4 linked regions of the Homo sapiens genome follow. The protein of the gene in region 1 purifies or fractionates together with the protein of each later gene. This does not show direct contact. Each region holds a gene or a part of one and is shown on either strand. Other genes may lie near its edges.

Region 1 (5,284 bases):
TCCTGCCCCACCCCAATTATCTCTGGGGAACCCCTTCCCCTAGACCTTGCTCCACTCCCTTCCTGTCCCTGCACTCACAGCACAGCAGCCTTCTCCGTGCGGGAACTGAGGTACCGCTGCACCTGAGCCTGGTTCACCCCGTATAAGGAGAGCATCATGAAGACACCCCCGAAGGCCAAGGTCCAGAAGGTGTGCCGCACAAAGGGGTCTGGATCCAGCCTGTAACAGACACCACCCAGTCATTGTGCAAAGCCTGAGAGACACAGCCTTCCTGCCCTCTTGGCAACAGGAGTCAGTGGACAGGAAAGGAGAGACACCACTGCTAGGGCCAAGGGGGACACTGAAAGCAAGAAGCTGGGTGCACTCGAGAGACAGCACAGCCAGTTAGAGGGAGGCTCCATTCTTCCACCCCAGGCTCATTCCAGGTACTCATCCCAGGTAATGTCCTGACTCTCTATAAACACTAGCCGGGCACCTGTAATCACCCTCCATCTCTGCAGGACCAGTTTCCCACTGTCTGCTGTTACACCTCAGGCTTCCCAGTTTACCTTCTGCTTACTATAGCCAAGACCAGCCTCTAGGATGGGCTCAGCGCCCAGGCACTGCAGACCCCAGCCAGGAGTAGGGGTATACTTACTCAAACCCAGAGATGCGGCCGTGCTGGGAAGCCACGGCCCACACACGCCCCAAGCCGCCCACCTTGGCTGACCCCACAATGATAACTGCCAGCTGCCCGAGGAACATGACCAGTGTCTGGAACACATCTGTCCAGATGACGGCCTTCAGCCCACCCTGCAAGGAAAGCACAGCAAACCTGCCACAGAGGCCTTCTAAACCCAGCTTGTCCAACCTGCCTTATTTTGTTGTTGCTCCATTTTGTTTTGTTTTGTTTTGTTTTAGGCTTTTTGCAGCCTGAAGCCAGTTTTTAGTTTCTGTCTCTGGTGATATGTATAAAAGAGGGATGACGAAGGGGCTTTACTGACCCAACCAGAAACAGAAACTAAGAACCCATGACTATATTCTCTCCCTTGGACACTCCTGAAACCATCCACCCTAAGAACATACTACCAGTGAGGGGACTCTCCTGCCATTAGGCATGTAATTGCTGTGACCCTGTTGACATCATTCCCATCCCATCCTCTACCTTCATATACCATCCCCACTGCTAAATCCTATCATAAATCTTACCACCCCAGAATTTCACCTATTCTCCTCATCTATATTCTCAGCTTATCTCTTCTTTTCCTTCTCTTCCCATGTCCCCTCCTTACTTCATCCCTTCCCCTCCCCACACCACGGCTTACTGCACTTACCAGAGCTGTATAGACGGTACAGACAATGCCCAGGGCCAGCACGGACAGCCACAGATCAAAGCCAGTCACTGTAAGCATAGAAGCCACATTCTTATCCCTGGAAAAGGGTTCCCCAGGGGAGAAGCCCTGGTAGGGCAATCACGTCATGCCACAGAGATAAAGCATTGGTCATTAACAATGAAATAAATCATTCACCACAACGGAGAAAAATGTTTGCAGAGCTCCACCAAAAGATATTGACTAACCAGTTCAGATAGGGCATGGTAACATGTTACTAGCTGTCAATTGAGGTGGACCAAGCCTTCCTCTGGTAGAGACCCACCCAAGGGCCCAAGCGGTGAATTAATTCCCCATTCAAGGTCAGGTTCTTTTCCACATACGCTCCTCCATCTGCCTCTCCCAAAGGTGCTTTCCTAACCTACCACGGCTGAAAGCCAGGGGCTGTGTGACTCCTCACCTGCATTGAGAGCCAATGACGGAGCATAGAGCACAACTCCCATGTAGATCACCTGTTGCATGTGGAAAAAATGTGATGGGGGCCGGAGAATGGTGGGAAGAGAGAGGAAGAAAGATGGGCCTCAGCGCCAATATGCCCATGGCTTCCCCTCACCTAGGCTCACTTCCCTCTTCCTTCTCCTCTCAAATTCTGGCTTGCTGCCACCACAGTATCTGTGCTGGAATTGGAAGGCATGGGCAGCAGGATGCCTCTGGGGTCCTCACAGATGCTAACCTCTAGCAGGAATTTCAATCCTGCCAATCTGAGAGCAGGGGAGACTCCAATTCCCTCAGCATGCTTGCGTTCAGGTCCCCCAACATGCCCTAGGCTCGGTTTCTATCCTCATTCTGCTTACCATCTGAAAGATGAAGGTCACAGTTCCACACACTCGCACAGTTTTATTGAATCGAAGCTCCAGGTACTGGGTATACAGAAAAAAAGATTTTTCTCCTGACTTCACCCCGACAACTCACAGACAAATTCCCTCAAGATGCTCAGGAACATGAGGGAATATCCAACCCATACCCACTCTGAGTCCTACTCGGCATAGCACCCTCCTCTCCAATCCTGCCCCTATACCTAACATCACTGAGAAAGAATTATAAACACACAATGAGTTTTCTGTCCCTCTCATTAGGTGGAGGAGGTCTAGGGTCCCAGGTCCTTCCTATGTGCCTGTCCCTCCTCTCCACCCCAACCCGTGTCCCACGCACTTCTCCCTTCTGTCCCTGCTCACCTCATAGGCACTGGTGAGATGCAGGCGGTAGAAAACGGGGATGAAGATGTGTGCAGGTATCAGCAGCCCCAGAAAGTAGCAGCAGCCCAGGAACCAATATTGGGTCCCAAATCGGTAGATCTCTGACGGCACACCCAGGATGGCCACGGCTGACTGGAAGGTGGCCAGCAGGGACAGTGCCACCGGAAGGCAGCCCATTTTGCGGTCCGCCATCAGCAGCTCACCAACAGTATGCCGGCCCCAGCCACGACAAGCATGGTAGAGCCCAATGGCAAGAGAGAGAACCAGCAGCAGGACGAACACCACATAGTCCATGATGGAGAAGGTAGACATGCCCACGCTTGTGCCCGAGGTTGGGGAAAGAGGGGCTGAGGTGCTCACCCCTACACTCATATCCTCACTGTGTCTGTGATCTGCAGCCAGTTGCTGCTCCAGGGCTCTGGGGTAGGGCAGGGGCGGATGTGTGGCTACAATCTGGCTTCCAGCCACAGTCTCACAGTCTTCCTCCACGGAGTGATACTGTCCAGGGTGAGCTGCAAAGGAATTAGCTCTTAGTGAGGCCTATCTGGCCTTGGTAGCCATTCACCCTTGGGCCTTGTACATCGCATGCCATCAGAAGTGGACCAGCCAGCATAGTGGTAGCCCTTCAAGGTCTAGAGGCCCTGGTATGGGTTTGGTAGGGGACATAAGTGAGGGAGAAGCATCAGAGTGCGACAGCCAGGAGACAATATAACTTGGCCAGGACCTTTGAGTATGCACAGCTGTGAAATTCAACAACCTTCTTAGGTCTCCACCCGAGTACCAAAAGAAAAATAAACTCTAGCCTAAGTTTCTTAGCAGAATTTCCCAGCCCCACTTGAAGGCACAGACCCAGTCACTACAATACACTAAGCCAGCAGAGCCCAGCCTGGCGCCACAGCCCAGCAGGAAACACAGCATGGAGACTAATGGCAGCAGGGCTTCCCCTACTGCCCCTGGCCTCGGCCCTCGCCTCCTGTGATCCCCAGTGTCACCCTTCTAACTGATCATCAGTGAGACTGCCTCTGTGGCAGCCACAGACTCCATTTCAGGCGTCCCCAGGCCAACCCCTTTCTTAAGGTTCTCCCCAACACCACTAGATAAGTGCTGCCACCCACCTCTCAGCCCCTCTACCTGCAACATCACAGTCAACAGCAGACGCAGGAAGAGCGGCTGGATTCAAAAGTGAGAGGGGAAAGGTGAGAGGGCACCATGCTGGAGTCAGGGTTTCAGAATGACGATTCTCCATTCTGGAGAGAAGCAACCCAGTCACGGAGCTGAGAGGCAAAGGGACCAGCCAAAGAGAGTGGTCGTATCCTGCTGGGGACAGACACCTACCTGGAGAAGCAATCCCTGTTCTGAGGCAGAGTTGCCTGGAGCTGCAGAGCTGAGGATCTGGCTCTATGAGTAGCTGAGGTGAGAGATCAGGAATTGGGGGTGGGGTGAAGCTCAGCAGTCATTTGTTCTGGCCCCTTCAGGGAACCAATGGCTGTGTTCCAAATGGCCCTATCACCCTATGGCCCCCAAACTCCAACTCAGCCCTAGAGGCTCCAGAACAGGGAAGAGGGAGCTCATATTCAACAGCATTCCTAGATGGATTAGCCTTTCAGCCTAAAGTACTCTTGGCACTCTGTGCGGGAGGGAGTTGGAAAGAAGGAACTGAAAACATGGGAAAGTTGAAAGTTGATTTTCTAACTCCTGCACAAGAAATGTTAATCCCCCAAGAATACACCACAATCCTCAGAGAAAGAGGGAAGGGATCATAATATTTAAAATCTTAAATCTTTGGACACCACTATTACAACCAACCCCCCACCACTGACGATTTCACAGATAAACACGCTAAGGCTCAGATGGTTCAAGTGACCTTTCCAAAAGCACAGAGCCGACTATTGTCAGAGCATAAATTAGAACCCAGGTCTAGGGATTCACCATCCACCCTGTCTGTTCTCCAAGCGTATCATATTGTCTTCAAAGGCAATCCTCTGGGGTACTTATTGGTATGAGGAAAAAACACCAGAGAATGCCATGTAGTTACACAGCCTAACATGACGACAGTTAACATTTGCTGAACACCTGCTATGTAACCCAGCAGTGTGTGAGGTGCTTTATAAACATTAGTAATAATACATAATGAAGCTAACATTTTCAAAACAGCATGTCTCAGATTAAGACACGAATACTCTCCAGTTAACACAAGAAAACTGAGAGATTAAATAACTTGCTCAAGGTTATGCAGCATGATACAAAACAAGAGAGAGAGAAACAGTGCTGTCTGCAGCTATGACAGGTGTTCAGCAAGGGCCCTGTCCTCACTATTCCCAGAACCAGGACAGGAGCAGAGTGTTGCAGTCAGTCATTCACAGGACATAGTTTAGATTTCAACTAATCAAGAGACAGACTAACATAAACTATGTCTTCTGCTTTTGCCCACTAGGAGAAAGATTAGGCTGCCTTTCCGCTCTCCCACAGTGTGTTCTTGGGCAGACACTGGCTGGCTGGCAAGATATGGCCTCATGCAGACTAAACCTGAACTCTGAACCTCTTGGGGCCAATAAAGAGGGAAAATCAGACCTGGCAACTCTTGGATCACATGTTCTACAAGATTCCCAACAGGCTTAAACTCTGGTTTAACCTAAACATGCCCTGGGCCTTTGCACATTGCAACACCCTGAGTTTTCTCATTCGTCTTTGGCAAGTTTTTACTGCTATGATAGAGAT
Region 2 (4,658 bases), on another chromosome or scaffold:
AACTATTTAAAACTTGAAGAGATGGGGGAGAGCTGTATTTACCCATTTTGGTTATCCCTAAGTACCCTTTCAAGTTAATAATTTAGAGGTGCTTTACTTGTAGTTATTGGTTTAATAAAGTGCTCTCCGTCAGTAACAGTGAATAACTAGTTTTACAGCATAAGAGGTAAAGTCGCAGGTGGAATATCAGCTGCGGCCAACCATGGAAAATTTTTTATTTGATTGGAATCAGAAGCTGAAAACTGGTAGCCCTTAGGTTCTGTCCGGATATTTGTTTCATTAGGCCAAGACAATGTGTTAACAGTTTTTGAAATAGTTGTCCAGGACTTTAAAATTGGAAGCTTTTATATAAAATGAGAATATCTTTTTTTGAAAAAATTACAACTTCAAAACCCTGGGCCCACACTCTAATGTGGCAACAATGAATTGGAGTGAAAGCGTAATTGTGCTTTAAACACTCTACACCTTGCAATTTGCCACAGACCCCAGCAGAGTCCTTCATTCATTTAAATTATTTACCTGGCCCCTATCAGAATTTGACTTTGAGGTTTAAATGAACAGCAGGTTAATAAAATAAATTTTTTAAAATTGTTTTGAGACTAAACCTAAATTGTCAGTAATTGGTTATCAGTAATCTTATTTTTTTATTTCTATTTTTTTTTACTTTAGAACAGCTGAATAGATTTGCTGGATTTGGTATTGGACTTGCAAGGTAATGTTTTATCTAAAGACGTTTACAGCTTTTATTTATTGAATTTAGAGTTTTTCTTTAATTTACAATATTAAATGATTATTATTGCTTCCTTTAGGTTGTTTCTTTGAAGCAGCAGCTTAAATTTTGAATAATATTTTGCAGAAAAAAAATGACCATTATTTAAAATATATAATTTGATAGTTTTTCCAGTAAGGATAGACTAGTCATCCAATTTTATAAACACAAAGTAATTTTGTAATGAGTATTGTAACTGTTTTCATGGGTCTATCCAAAAAATAAAATGAAGTGTAATCTTATCTCTCTCCCATCAAAATAATAATTTAGAATGGGGTTCATGAAGATCAAATGGCTCTGCTGATAAGAACTTTTTTCATAGGACATTTTCTGAAAGAAAAATTACATGGCATTTAATGATGCCATGTAACTGACGTGTCATTTCCCACATCAAACATACAGTGATCTAGTTTCATTTTATACCGTAGATATTAATATTGTGTATTATATATTGTTTCCCTTACTTACCTGTTTGCAGATCTGGTTTTCATTCTTTTCATGGGTCTATCCAAAGAATAAAATGAAATGTAATCTGTCTGTCTCCCATCAAAAAAGTAATTGTGCATGGAGGCTTCTTTCTAAACACTCTAATGCTTACAAGATATTTAGCAACATAGCATCTAGATTTTGTTCATAATCAGCGTTTGGTGATAGCATTACTTTTTTTTATATCTAACGATCATTTTAAGAAAATCCTTTAGTCTTGATTATTGTGATCCTTAGTGAATACCATTTTCAAAAATATTGGAATTGCACAAAGCTTACATTTCATGCCATAATGATCATTATTTTAAACATTTTAACGAAGAAAAACACCTTATTTGCATAATTAAACCCGAGGGTGTTAATGTCAATATAAATAAAATCTGTGTTTTCCATTCTGCTGGAGTTGTTTTTTGCTTCAATATTTATACTTAAAGCTTTGATTCATTTGATAGACTATTATTACATATAAATATGTGTGCACATGTATGTATATGTCACTCTGAGACCTGAAACCCACAGCTGTAATTGTTTTGTGGGGCACATTCTCAAAATAAATATTTGATACATAAATATTAGTCAATTAACATGGTCATTAAGAATCTTATAATTTAAGATTTATACTTAAATTTATACTTAAACCTTATAATTTAAGTGCACCAAAACCAAACATTTTTAGAATGGGGTTCATGAAGATCAAATGACTCTGCTGATAGGAATTCTGTTATTAGGACATTTTCTGAAAGAAATAATTTGCAGCATTAAATGCCATTTAATTGATGTGCCATTTCCCACATTAAACATTCAGAGATCTAGTTTCATCTTATACTATAGACATTAATATTATGTATTATGTATTGTTTCCCTTATTTACTAGTATGCAGATCTGGTTTTCATTCTTTTCATATTGAATTTCGTTATGGGTAGAATCATTTGCAAACATTTCTAGACATTTTTAAAGATCTATTTAATTTGTTTAAGAATGGAAAACATAAAATAATGCATGATTCTTCAGGCAAGAATAATTTCAGAAAGATACCTGTTGTAAATTTAATTTATCTCTATGTAGACATACATATACATAAATTATTTTTATATAGTCTCTTTACAGAAAATGTATTGGCACATCCTTGCATTGTTCTACGCCGCCAATGTCAGGTAAATGTAATTTCTGTGATCTTTTGAAGCAATACTTCTGACCCTAATATGAAGGGCAGAACTCACATAAATGACATGAAACCAGGTAATTGTTACTTCATGTGAAATGTTCCAAACTTTTTGGTCTCAAAACCTCTTTAAAGTCTTAAAAAAATATTGAGGATCCTAAATAACTTTGGTTTATGTTGGTCATATCTATTGATAGTTACCATTTCAGAAATTAAAATTGGGAAAATTTCAATGCATCTATATAATTCATTAAAATAATAACACCTGTTAGTAAGATAATATGTTTTTATGAAAGTAACTATTTTGCATTTTTGCAAATATCTTTAATATCTGACATAATAGGAGAGAGCCAGTTTCTCTCGTATGCTTCTGCAGTCAATCTGTTGCATCACGTGGTTTTTGAAAGAAGCAAGGAAGTTTAGTCTTGTACACATGTATAGTTGAAAGCAGGAGAGGAGTATATTATATTCTTTTGAGATAATTGTGGGTATTCTTTGCAATTGCACCAAAACTCACTGTGTCGCAGTTTCTTAAAGGTTATTTGCAATGTGAAATCAGAAATCATTTTAGTGAACTTTTTATACTTTGTTACATTAAAAAATCCATTTAACTATACTGCATCTTGAATAGATATTTTTACTTATGCCTGATTCCATGTAATTGTGCATAAGTTATTTGAAAAATATTGACCAATTGAGTTACATAGATCTTCCTGTTGTTAAAACATTTGATTATAAAATATCAAAAAATCATCTTCATTAAAAATACTACTGATCTCACTAGAAAAGTCTATAAGTATTGTCAGCTCTTGACGATGCATATAGATTTTCCAAAATTCTGAGTTTTAGTTGAAAATTCAAACTTATCATTGACAGTAAATACTGTTATTTATTTTTGTTTTAATCAACAATCTCACTTTGTTTATTTTTTAAAATATGTCTGTCCTGAAAGTGAATAGGTATAGTCCGTCAATGAGTTTTTCTAAGTAAAAATGATGTTCCGTGAAAAAAGTGGCTAGTTTAGCTTGCAGTTCTATCATACAAGTGCTTTCCTCATGACAGCAATCTTACTTCCTTATGTAACACACAGGATATTAATTAGAAAGAGGATGTGTACTCAAAGGTCAAGGATTCATAAAATTAACATTTTGTTACTTCATTGTCAAGGATATTACTATATGAAGGTTGCTTTTTTCTCTCTATGGGTAAATGAGGTGAAAAATTACTGTAAGTACGAAAATACAGTTTGATGGTGCTGCCTCAATTTGTGCTAATGAGCTGGGAGTTTTACCTACCATTGCTTTTGTACCATTAGTGAAAATGTCAAGACAGTGAAAAAAGGAAATTATATCTTAGTAATCACTAGGAAAATAATTTTGAACTTGTCAAGCCCCTGAAAGGGTAATGGGGCCCTCAGGAGTCAGTGGACCCCACTTGCAAACTCTGTTATAACCCACTTTTTTTTTTTGTTTGTTTGAGACGGAGTCTCGCTCTGTTGCCCAAACTGGAGTGCAGTGGCATGATCTCGGCTCACTGCAAACTCCGCCTCCTGGGTTCACGCCATTCTCCTGCCTCAGCCTCCCGAGTAGCTGGGACTACAGGAGCCCGCCACCGTGCCCAGCTAATTTTTTGTATTTTTAGTAGAGACGGGGTTTCATCGTGTTAGCCAGGATGGTCTCGATCTCCTGACCTCATGATCCGCCCGCCTCAGCCTCCCAAAGTGGTGGGATTACAGGTGTGAGCCACTGCGCCCGTCCTGTTATAACCCACTTTCTCTGTAAAGTAATGCTTCCTGTATTTGTTAGCTGTTAGAGTTCAAAACAGTATAAATCATTATAAATTAATCTGTTCATGCTTAGCACTGAAAAGTATGTATACAGAAATACCATTAAAGTAGCATTGACTGTATGTGCCACAGAACAGTGTATTTCAGATATATATTTTACATTGTAGTAATATTAACATGGAGATCCAATGGATACATTACATATAAGTAACAAATATATTATTTTTAAATGTTTTATGAAATAATACCATTAGAATGTAATACATTCTAATATTTTATTGTTTCACATAATAAATATTGTTTTGACACTCCCCCAGTTGATTTCATATACCAGTCAGTTGCCAAGTACAGTTTGAAAAATGCTTGCCTAAAATGAACATGAGTTGGGAGATGTAATTCAGTTGTTTAAGGCAAACCAAATATCAAATAAGACCCTCTTTATTATATAGTCTAC
Region 3 (3,562 bases), on another chromosome or scaffold:
AAATCTTCTCATTTATGAAATGCTGATGTTTTCACTGGGAAATGTGTTTGGATTCGGAGCCAACCCTTTTAACATTTTTAGGACTTCTCAAGGAGTGTAACAGGCCTAGTTTAGTTGATATTCAGAACATATTTCAGTGTCAGTTACCAAAGTGAATATTGCTAGGTAAGCTGAGGCTGCCATTGGCAAATTTGGGAATTCAGGGACTGGATCATTTGGCAAATTAGCTTCTTCTTTTGATGGGGCAGCAGGCACTGTATGCTTTTAAATTGCAAGGTGATCAGTTGTTTGGGGTATAAATAATGAGGCAATGGGAACACAGACTTTAGTCAGAAGCGCCTGGGTTTGAGGTCCAGCTCTGAGGCTTACTGGACACGTAACCTGGGAAATGGGCCTTGTTTCTCTGAGCCTCAAGTTTTCACCCCAAATGGGAAAAAACACCCTCGTCCTGTGGGACTGCTGTTGGCGCTCAGCAGTCGTGCGTGCCCCACAGTGTGCAGAAGCAGACACACTGGACGTGTTCAGTAGCTGGCAGCTTTTGTTATTTGAGACAGGTTTTAAGAAGCTTAGGCAGATAAATGCATGAAAGGACTACACTGGAGCTTGCGTTACTGGGAGGGTTTGAAAAGTGGGTGACATTCCTGAAATTCTATCCTTGACACGTTCTTTTTTAGATGATTAGCATTTATGATGCAGAGACAGAACAACTTCGTATAGGACCGTACTCCTGGACACCATTTCCACATGTGGATTTCTGGTTGCACCAAGATGACAAGCAAATACTAGAGGTGAGAGTTTACAGGCTGGGTAAGTCTTAAATCTCTGCACCCTGGTTTCCCCATCTGTAAGAAAAAAAGGGTTTAGACCAGGTCATAGCTGCTTTCCCTTTGGCGGGTAGTAACTTTTTGGATGCCATTGACAGACCCCATTTAACTTGTATATCAAATGGGGATATGTCAAGTCCTAGATGGAAATGTGTGTGGGTAAAGCAGTAAGCAATCAACTTTTTTCTTACTAATTCAGGCCACCTCATTTCTTAACGTATTTTATTATATATATTTGTGTCCAAGAACAAAGATACTTTGACATCTTTATCACAGCAGGGGACAGTAAGGTTGGCTTCTCTAATGCCCACCATCTTGTGTTTTCAGAATCTTTCCACTTCGCCTCTGGCTGAGCCACCCCACTTTGTTGAACATATTAGATCTACCTTGATGTTTTTAAAAAAACACCCATCTCCAGCTCACACACTGTTTTCTGGAAATAAAGCCCTACTCTACAAAAAAAATGAAGATGGCTTGTGGGAAAAGATCTCTTCTCCAGGAAGTTAAAAAACATGAATTACCAAAGAAAGCACCTTCTTGGCCTGACAGACCATTGGTGGGGCTGGCACGAATCCAGATCTGGATCCTACATCTGTTGGGTCTTAGGCCTCCTTCCCTCCTCAGTGTCTTTCAAATGACTTTCATCAAATGACTTTCAAAATAAAACCTTATTTTGGCAAAGGCATTTGTTGAGACTTATTTTTTGGTTTACTAAAAAATTGATGTCCAGTTTTTTTTTTGGTCGGTAATAACGGGCAGAGGAGAACCTACCTCTCACTGGTCTATCGGCAGCTATTTCAGGTACGTGGGTAAGTCTTTTGTAATAAGATTTATAAACTGAATTCACTGGTAACAATTTCAAGAACCTTTATTGAAACCAACATTCAAATAATATCTCAAGGGTGAAATGTTTCAGCAAAACCAATTTAACAATTCCAAATATATATAAAAACATGTAATTTTCTTGAAGGTGATAATTTACCCCTCCCCCATTTTATCTGCTATACTTCATTGCACCAAATAGGGAAGACTGTTTAATCATCTGCACCAAAAAAAACCCCCTGCATTTTGACAAGTGTAAATGTCAAAAATCCCATCAAATCAGAGTATAATTATAGGCTTAATATACTATAACTAAGGCTTCCAATACTACAGTCCAGAAACCCAGTGTGAATTTTCCCATTTTCAGGTCTCCCAAAAGCTTGACTGCTGGATTAAGAAGGCACAGGGGCCATTACTTACGACAAAGTGACGCAGTACTTCGGAAAAGTAGGAACGGGCAGTGCCAGCGAGCTTCTACTGACTTAAGCAGGGTGCCCGGCTGGATCAGCGTGAGAGAGTGCTCTGCTGGCTCCTGTTTCTGAGTTGGGCCCAGGCGAGCTGCCAGGGCAGTAGAAGCTTCAGTGGGAGACAGGTCAAAGGGGTACTTGTTTTCAGATTTTAACCAGGTGGGTGCTACGTAGCACACGGAAGAGCAAGCTCTTAAGGGTAGCATCTATCAGGTTTTCAGATACTAAACAGAAATGAGCACAGTCTGTACTTGTGTGCCAATTTTAAAAGCTTTGCCAGTATTTAAAAATATATGGTCAGGAGGAGACTTTACAGTTTCTCTTTACAAACGGTATATAATGGGAGAAATGGCCTTGTGGCAGAGGACAGTCCCAGACAGCAGCCTTGCCACAGCTCAAGTAGACACAGTCCTTACTAAGTCTCCACGAAGAGCAGTAGCTGGGGAGGGCTTCTGATGCTCTTATTTACAATCCCACAATCACTGCTCTCCTTCAAGTCTAGCAGTCCCACTGTATATTGCAACTTGATCGTACTAAAGACCGACAGCAAAGGATACAGCCAGTCTCGCCTCTGTGAAGTGTTGCAGAGAACCTGGAGAGTGCTAATGAAAAGCTGTTTTACCAAAAAGTTGCCACGGGCAACCTCATATACTTAGGCTTATGTTTAGAAAGAGCAAGGGTGCTACTGGTAGACACTTGAAATTCGAAGTGTTTTTTGTGAATAAAATGTGTTTATGGTAACTTAGGGAAAAGTCGTAGTAGGACAGCAAACGTGGTTCTACATGTACATGAAGTTAGACAAGCTGACTCCCCTCCTAGAAAGCCTACCTTTCAGGCACATATTTGTGCCAAAATCCCAGTGAAGCACAAACAACAGTAATTTATATTAGTATGTGGCACAGTTCACATTTCCAATAGAACTTCATCTTCCCTGAAACAATACTCAGTACAGTCTCAAACCACACAATGAGTCTCATCTTAAGCTCTCCGGTCCTTCTACCTGTGAGTGGTCATCTTCTGGGTGTGGGACCCCTTTCTGGAAGGCCTCGGTCTGGTCGGTGTGCTGAGGGCTGGGAGCCCCTGGGTGTCCCTCAGTGCTGCTGGCCTCGAGGGTGATCTGCTCCGGCCCACTGGATAGGCGCTCCACCTTTTCTAAGTCTTCAATGTGACTGACTGAGCTGGTCTCACTCAAAGCATCTGAACCTCGCAGGGACCTTTTAAAAGGCTTCTGGCCTACAGAAAGGGCAGACAGACTGCGCTGAAACTCAGTGAGGATACTTCTGCAACACAGGCTGTCTCTGCAACAGATAATTGCTTTATTTCACAACACAGCTTCAGCAGAAACCTTTACTGGCTCTGAGGTGTTTTAGGAGATGAGAAAACCGAGAGCTGCTAGCTTGACACCAACATGCTCCCCAGGCCGGGGAACTCTAAGGTCATCTTCATTAG
Region 4 (4,268 bases), on another chromosome or scaffold:
CCCAGGGATCCAGGAGTCGGCTCTCAGCTGGAGCTTCCATACCTTCTGGGCTCCCTTTGCTGACCACCAGCCCAAGGGAGCTAAGACCAGGAGGGGGCTGGGCGCTGTCCCTTCTCTTTCCCAGGAGCCCTGCCAGGGGCTGTGGGCCTACAAGGCTTCCAGGGGATGCCATCCAGCCTGTAGGAAACCAAAGATGGGAAGTGGCTCCTAGGGGGCTGACTCTTCCTTCCTCCTCCTCCCCAGTACCACATATACTTTCTCTCCTTCTATCTCCAGGGCCCCACCAATCTGTTTACATATTTATTATCCTATGGGGGCCTGAGCAGGATTGAGGGAGCCAGGGGAGGGGCAGGAGTCCCAGCACCATCGGTTCATAGTGTGCTTGTGTGTTTGTTTTAGATCCTCCTGGGGGATGGGGATGGGGCCAGGCTCAGTGTACTAGGCCTCTCTGTGCTGAGCCCCAGGCTCCCGGCCCCTTACCCACTCTCTCCCTGTGGCTGGTCTGGTTCTCATGTAAACCCACTCCTTGCTTTGTCTCCCTGGATATGGATTTCAGTTAAGTATTTTGTAACCCGTTACACTGTGTGTCCTTGTGTAAATAAACTTGTTTCTGGCAGTGCCTTCTGGGGCCAATGTCTCTATTCTCTGGGCTCCCAAATGGAGTAGAGGTTCTCATCCTCCTTCCTAGCCAAACACACTACTCTTTTCTCCAGCCCCTGGACTAGAAGCCGATTTAGGAAACTGGAGGTTGGGGCGCAAGATCTGTCCTGTAAGTGAAAAGACAGGGTTATACCGAATATAGTCACAGCATCTCATGGGACCTCTCATGTGGCCTAGGCAGTGATGAGGCAGGGGACCCAGGGCTGAGAGGTCTCACCTGAGTTTACAGCCCTCTCCTTTCCTGCCTCTCTGCCCCTGGAAACAGGGCTGGAGATGGCACAGAGACTACTGGAGCAGCCTGGCAAAGGTTCCACTTGTGCACACACAGGCAAGGCCCATGGAGATGTGCGCATAGGCAAGAAAGGAATCTCAAAGTATTCAAGGGCTTTATTGGGGCCGCCCTGGCTGCCCCTCACAGTGTTGCAAGAACCCGCTGGTCTTGCTGTTGCCTTTGCTCTTTGGGGGCTTGAGAGGAAAGGCAGAGGGAGGACCAACTTATCTGGGAGAGAGAAGGCCCATCTTTGGGGCTAAGACCAGGTGGTGCGGAAGCAGATTTAGGGAGGGGAGGGCCTACTTAGGGGCTGGAAGGGGATGGGGCTGCCTCCTGGAGTGTGGTGGTCACAGAGTGTTGGCTTTGTGGGAGGGAAAGGAAAGGGAGGCACACAAGAAGTCAGGAAGAGTGGATGGGCGGTGCTTCCTGGGCACTGAACATGTGCACTGCCCAGGGCACGAGGGCCAGGACTAGGCATGGCCAGAGGGTGTACTTGAGGAAATTGAAAATGTAGAAGAGGCTGATCTGAGGGGGGTGGCCCAGCCAGTCCAGGGGGCCCAGCAGCCCCATGGCCAGCACAAGGCAGGCTATCTTCTGGCCATTTCCCAGCTGTGCCCGACGCACCTGGGCATAGCAGGGAGAGTGCAAGGCAATGCCCAGGCCCAGGGCAGCCCCTGAGTCACGGCTCAGGGAGGCAAAGGGCCGGCTATCCACGTGTATCCACTCAGGCCGCTCACACCACTTGAAGGCTAGGCTGATGGACCTGTGGGGAAGAAGAGTTCTTGCCAGGAGAGGCTGGAACATAGAAGGCCACTGGCTCTTGGCCATCTGCCCTTGGGGCCCACTCCCATGTTCTGTTTTGTGCCTGTGAGGGTCTATGTGAATAGGTAATGTGTCCTTTTTTAGCTATAATGAACCAGAGACACACCAGGCTAGGTGCAGGCGAGATAGGACAGGGCCCAGCCTGCCCAGGCTTCAAAGCGAGACTTACCAAGAAAGATCCAGGCCCAGTGTAAAGAGGGTCCAATAGATGAGGCTGGTGCCTAGCATGAGGGCCAGTGCAGTCAACCCATAGAAGCTTAGCTCCCGCTCCATAGGCACTCGGGGAGTCATCAGCCAGCCCAGGACAGCGCCTAGGAGAGTGGAGTGACAACAGCTTCAAGGAGTCTGGGGATATGACCCTCCCCACCCCGACCCCCAGCTGCAGTGCAGCTTGGCAAGAGAATAAACTGAGACATAACGGGGGGCCTCTGGGGTGGGCTCTACAGAAGCTGGGAGCGATGGGAAGATCCTAGACTGATCCTCCCACTGCCAAAGGCATCCTCTCAGTCCACCCCGTTGCCCCAGTTGCTCACCAGTTATTAGGCCAGCCAGCACCTGGTGAGGGAAATGTGCTAAGATGAAGATTCGCGACAAGCCAACCGCCAAAAGGAAGGTGCAATAAGCCAGGCTAGGCATCACCCTTACCCAGCGGCTAGAAAGAAGAGAGGCAAGGAGCTCAGAGCGTGTCCATACACAGCTTGGCCTCCTGCAGCACCCAGGTACTCCATGGTTGAACCACACAACCTAGGGTCCCCAAAACTCCAGCTCCCAGGCTGCCATGCTGCTGTGTCTATTAGGTACAGGGTGCCATCACCCCTGCTCCCAATGGTGGGCAATGCCAAGGGTATACCTGCGGGCCCGAGTGGCCACCTGCGAAGACAGGGCCGTCATTATGGGCCAGAGGGCTGCTCCTGTGATCATGCAGTGTCCAGAAGGGCTGCCTGCCAGCAAATCCAGAAGCTCGTGGTGAGAAGATGGAGGCAGAACCCCGGGGCCCCTGGTGATGCCTCAATAATACAGCTGCCTTTCCTGGCTGAGAAGAGCTTTTCCCCAGCACTGATTCATAACTCGCTCTGCTCTGAGGCCTTTTTACTGCCACTTGAGGTCACTGTGCTCAGGTTTCTGTCCTGATCTGTGTCTCTTGGCTGTCCTCTATACAAGGTGGGCAGCTGGTACATAGCATGAGTGCCCTCCTCCCATAACTCAGCTTGGTCTCCCTGGGGTTCTTTTGTTCTCTGCGCCAGTAATTGAGAGGCTGGTCCTTTGGTTGGGCCACCCAGGCTGAAAAGTACTCTGAAATGTTCACCCGAACCCTAACCACATTGGGAAAGGGAGAATGTTTGAGGCTTCCCACCTGGACCAGTCTCACAAGAAGAGGGGAACTGGTGAACCTGGGCTGGAGCCTGGCTGTAGTAACCAGACTCATGGACCCACCAAAAGGGCCTGTCTCCAAAAAGAAACCTGGAAGAGAACAGATGCAAGATGACTTTCCACATGCACACACAGCCAGGGGGGGTACAAGGCGGGCAGGACACAGAGTACTCTGGAGGGCCTGAGGGGTGAAGTCAAAAAGGGACTACGATTCTGTCCACTGCTCTCAAGGTATCCATGGATACCTTGCCATGGTTTTCTACCTTAGAACAGGAGAAAGAAAGCACACTATTTCTTTTCTTTTTTTTTTCCTAACCCTCAGCCTGTGGAAACACTATTTTTAAAAACTAGTCTGGGGCCAGGTACAGTGGCTCATGACTGTAATCCCAGTACTTTGGGAGGCCTTAGCTGGAGGATCACTTGAAGCCAGGAGTTCATGACCAGCCTGGGCAACATAGCAAGACCCAGATTCAACAAAAACAAAAAATTAGCTGGAAGTGGTGGTGCACACCTATAGTCTCAGCTACTTGGGAGGCTGGGCGGGCAGATCACTTGAGCCCAGGAGTTCGAGAATAGCCTGGGCAACATGACAAAACCCCATCTCTACAAAAAATACAAAAATTAGCCAGGCATCTTGGGGTGTGCCTGTAGTCCCTGCTACTCCAGAGGCTGAAGTGGGAAGGATCACTTGAGCCCAGGAGGTTGAGGCTGCAGTGAGCTGTGATTGTGCCATTGTACTCCAGCCTGGTGATGGAGTGAGATCCTGTCTCAAAAAAAGAAAAAGTGAATAAAATAAAAAATAAAACTGATACAGAGGCAAGAGATTGTGGTAAGCCGTGTGTGTGCTCTGAGATACTCAGCCGTCCCACTCTACCCCCTCTCACTGCAAGGCCAGCTCTTATCATCCACAGAGAGTCCAGGACCCAGCTCTCTCCTCCAGGCCCTCACTAACCCTCCTGCTACCCCTGCCTCCATGTCCCCAGTTACAGCCTGAATTATCCACACCTAAATTATTTAGGTGAGCCTCTCAGGTCTGAAAATGGGGGTGGGAAATGGACAGAGAAGGCTGAGAAAGAATAAGGAGGACAAAAAAATGTCAAAATCCTCTGGTCTAGCAAGTGCTTGGCTGGGCCCTGGGAACCAC

The links. Proteins that work in one complex are often made in the same cells at the same time.
Region 2: the proteins of SLC5A6 (region 1) and SLC25A46 purify together in Homo sapiens (affinity purification with mass spectrometry; one large-scale study listed by BioGRID and IntAct). This does not show direct contact.
Region 3: the proteins of SLC5A6 (region 1) and PDXDC1 purify together in Homo sapiens (affinity purification with mass spectrometry; one large-scale study listed by BioGRID and IntAct). This does not show direct contact.
Region 4: the proteins of SLC5A6 (region 1) and G6PC3 purify together in Homo sapiens (affinity purification with mass spectrometry; one large-scale study listed by BioGRID and IntAct). This does not show direct contact.

Annotation. Positions count from the first base shown.
Region 1 is NC_000002.12:27,204,713-27,209,996, forward strand, and holds part of SLC5A6 (sodium-dependent multivitamin transporter), read right to left. Parts: intron 3,079-5,284; 5' UTR 2,939-3,078; coding exon 2,546-2,938; intron 2,231-2,545; coding exon 2,165-2,230; intron 1,823-2,164; coding exon 1,771-1,822; intron 1,382-1,770; coding exon 1,314-1,381; intron 793-1,313; coding exon 638-792; intron 220-637; coding exon 79-219; intron 1-78. UniProt on the Homo sapiens protein: Sodium-dependent multivitamin transporter that mediates the electrogenic transport of pantothenate, biotin, lipoate and iodide.
Region 2 is NC_000005.10:110,741,378-110,746,035, forward strand, and holds part of SLC25A46 (mitochondrial outer membrane protein SLC25A46), read left to right. Parts: intron 1-669; coding exon 670-712; intron 713-2,352; coding exon 2,353-2,410; intron 2,411-4,658. UniProt on the Homo sapiens protein: Transmembrane protein of the mitochondrial outer membrane that controls mitochondrial organization.
Region 3 is NC_000016.10:15,035,800-15,039,361, reverse strand, and holds the end of PDXDC1 (pyridoxal-dependent decarboxylase domain-containing protein 1), read right to left. Parts: intron 3,412-3,562; coding exon of another isoform or gene 3,347-3,411; coding exon 3,087-3,346; 3' UTR 1,332-3,086; coding exon of another isoform or gene 1,152-1,331; 3' UTR 1,030-1,151; downstream 1-1,029. Other genes in the region: NTAN1 (protein N-terminal asparagine amidohydrolase), read left to right, coding at 675-788, 1,152-1,331.
Region 4 is NC_000017.11:44,073,106-44,077,373, reverse strand, and holds the end of G6PC3 (glucose-6-phosphatase 3), read right to left. Parts: intron 3,215-4,268; coding exon 3,108-3,214; intron 2,695-3,107; coding exon 2,604-2,694; intron 2,406-2,603; coding exon 2,287-2,405; intron 2,065-2,286; coding exon 1,923-2,064; intron 1,695-1,922; coding exon 1,331-1,694; 3' UTR 1,030-1,330; downstream 1-1,029. UniProt on the Homo sapiens protein: Hydrolyzes glucose-6-phosphate to glucose in the endoplasmic reticulum. May form with the glucose-6-phosphate transporter (SLC37A4/G6PT) a ubiquitously expressed complex responsible for glucose production through glycogenolysis and gluconeogenesis.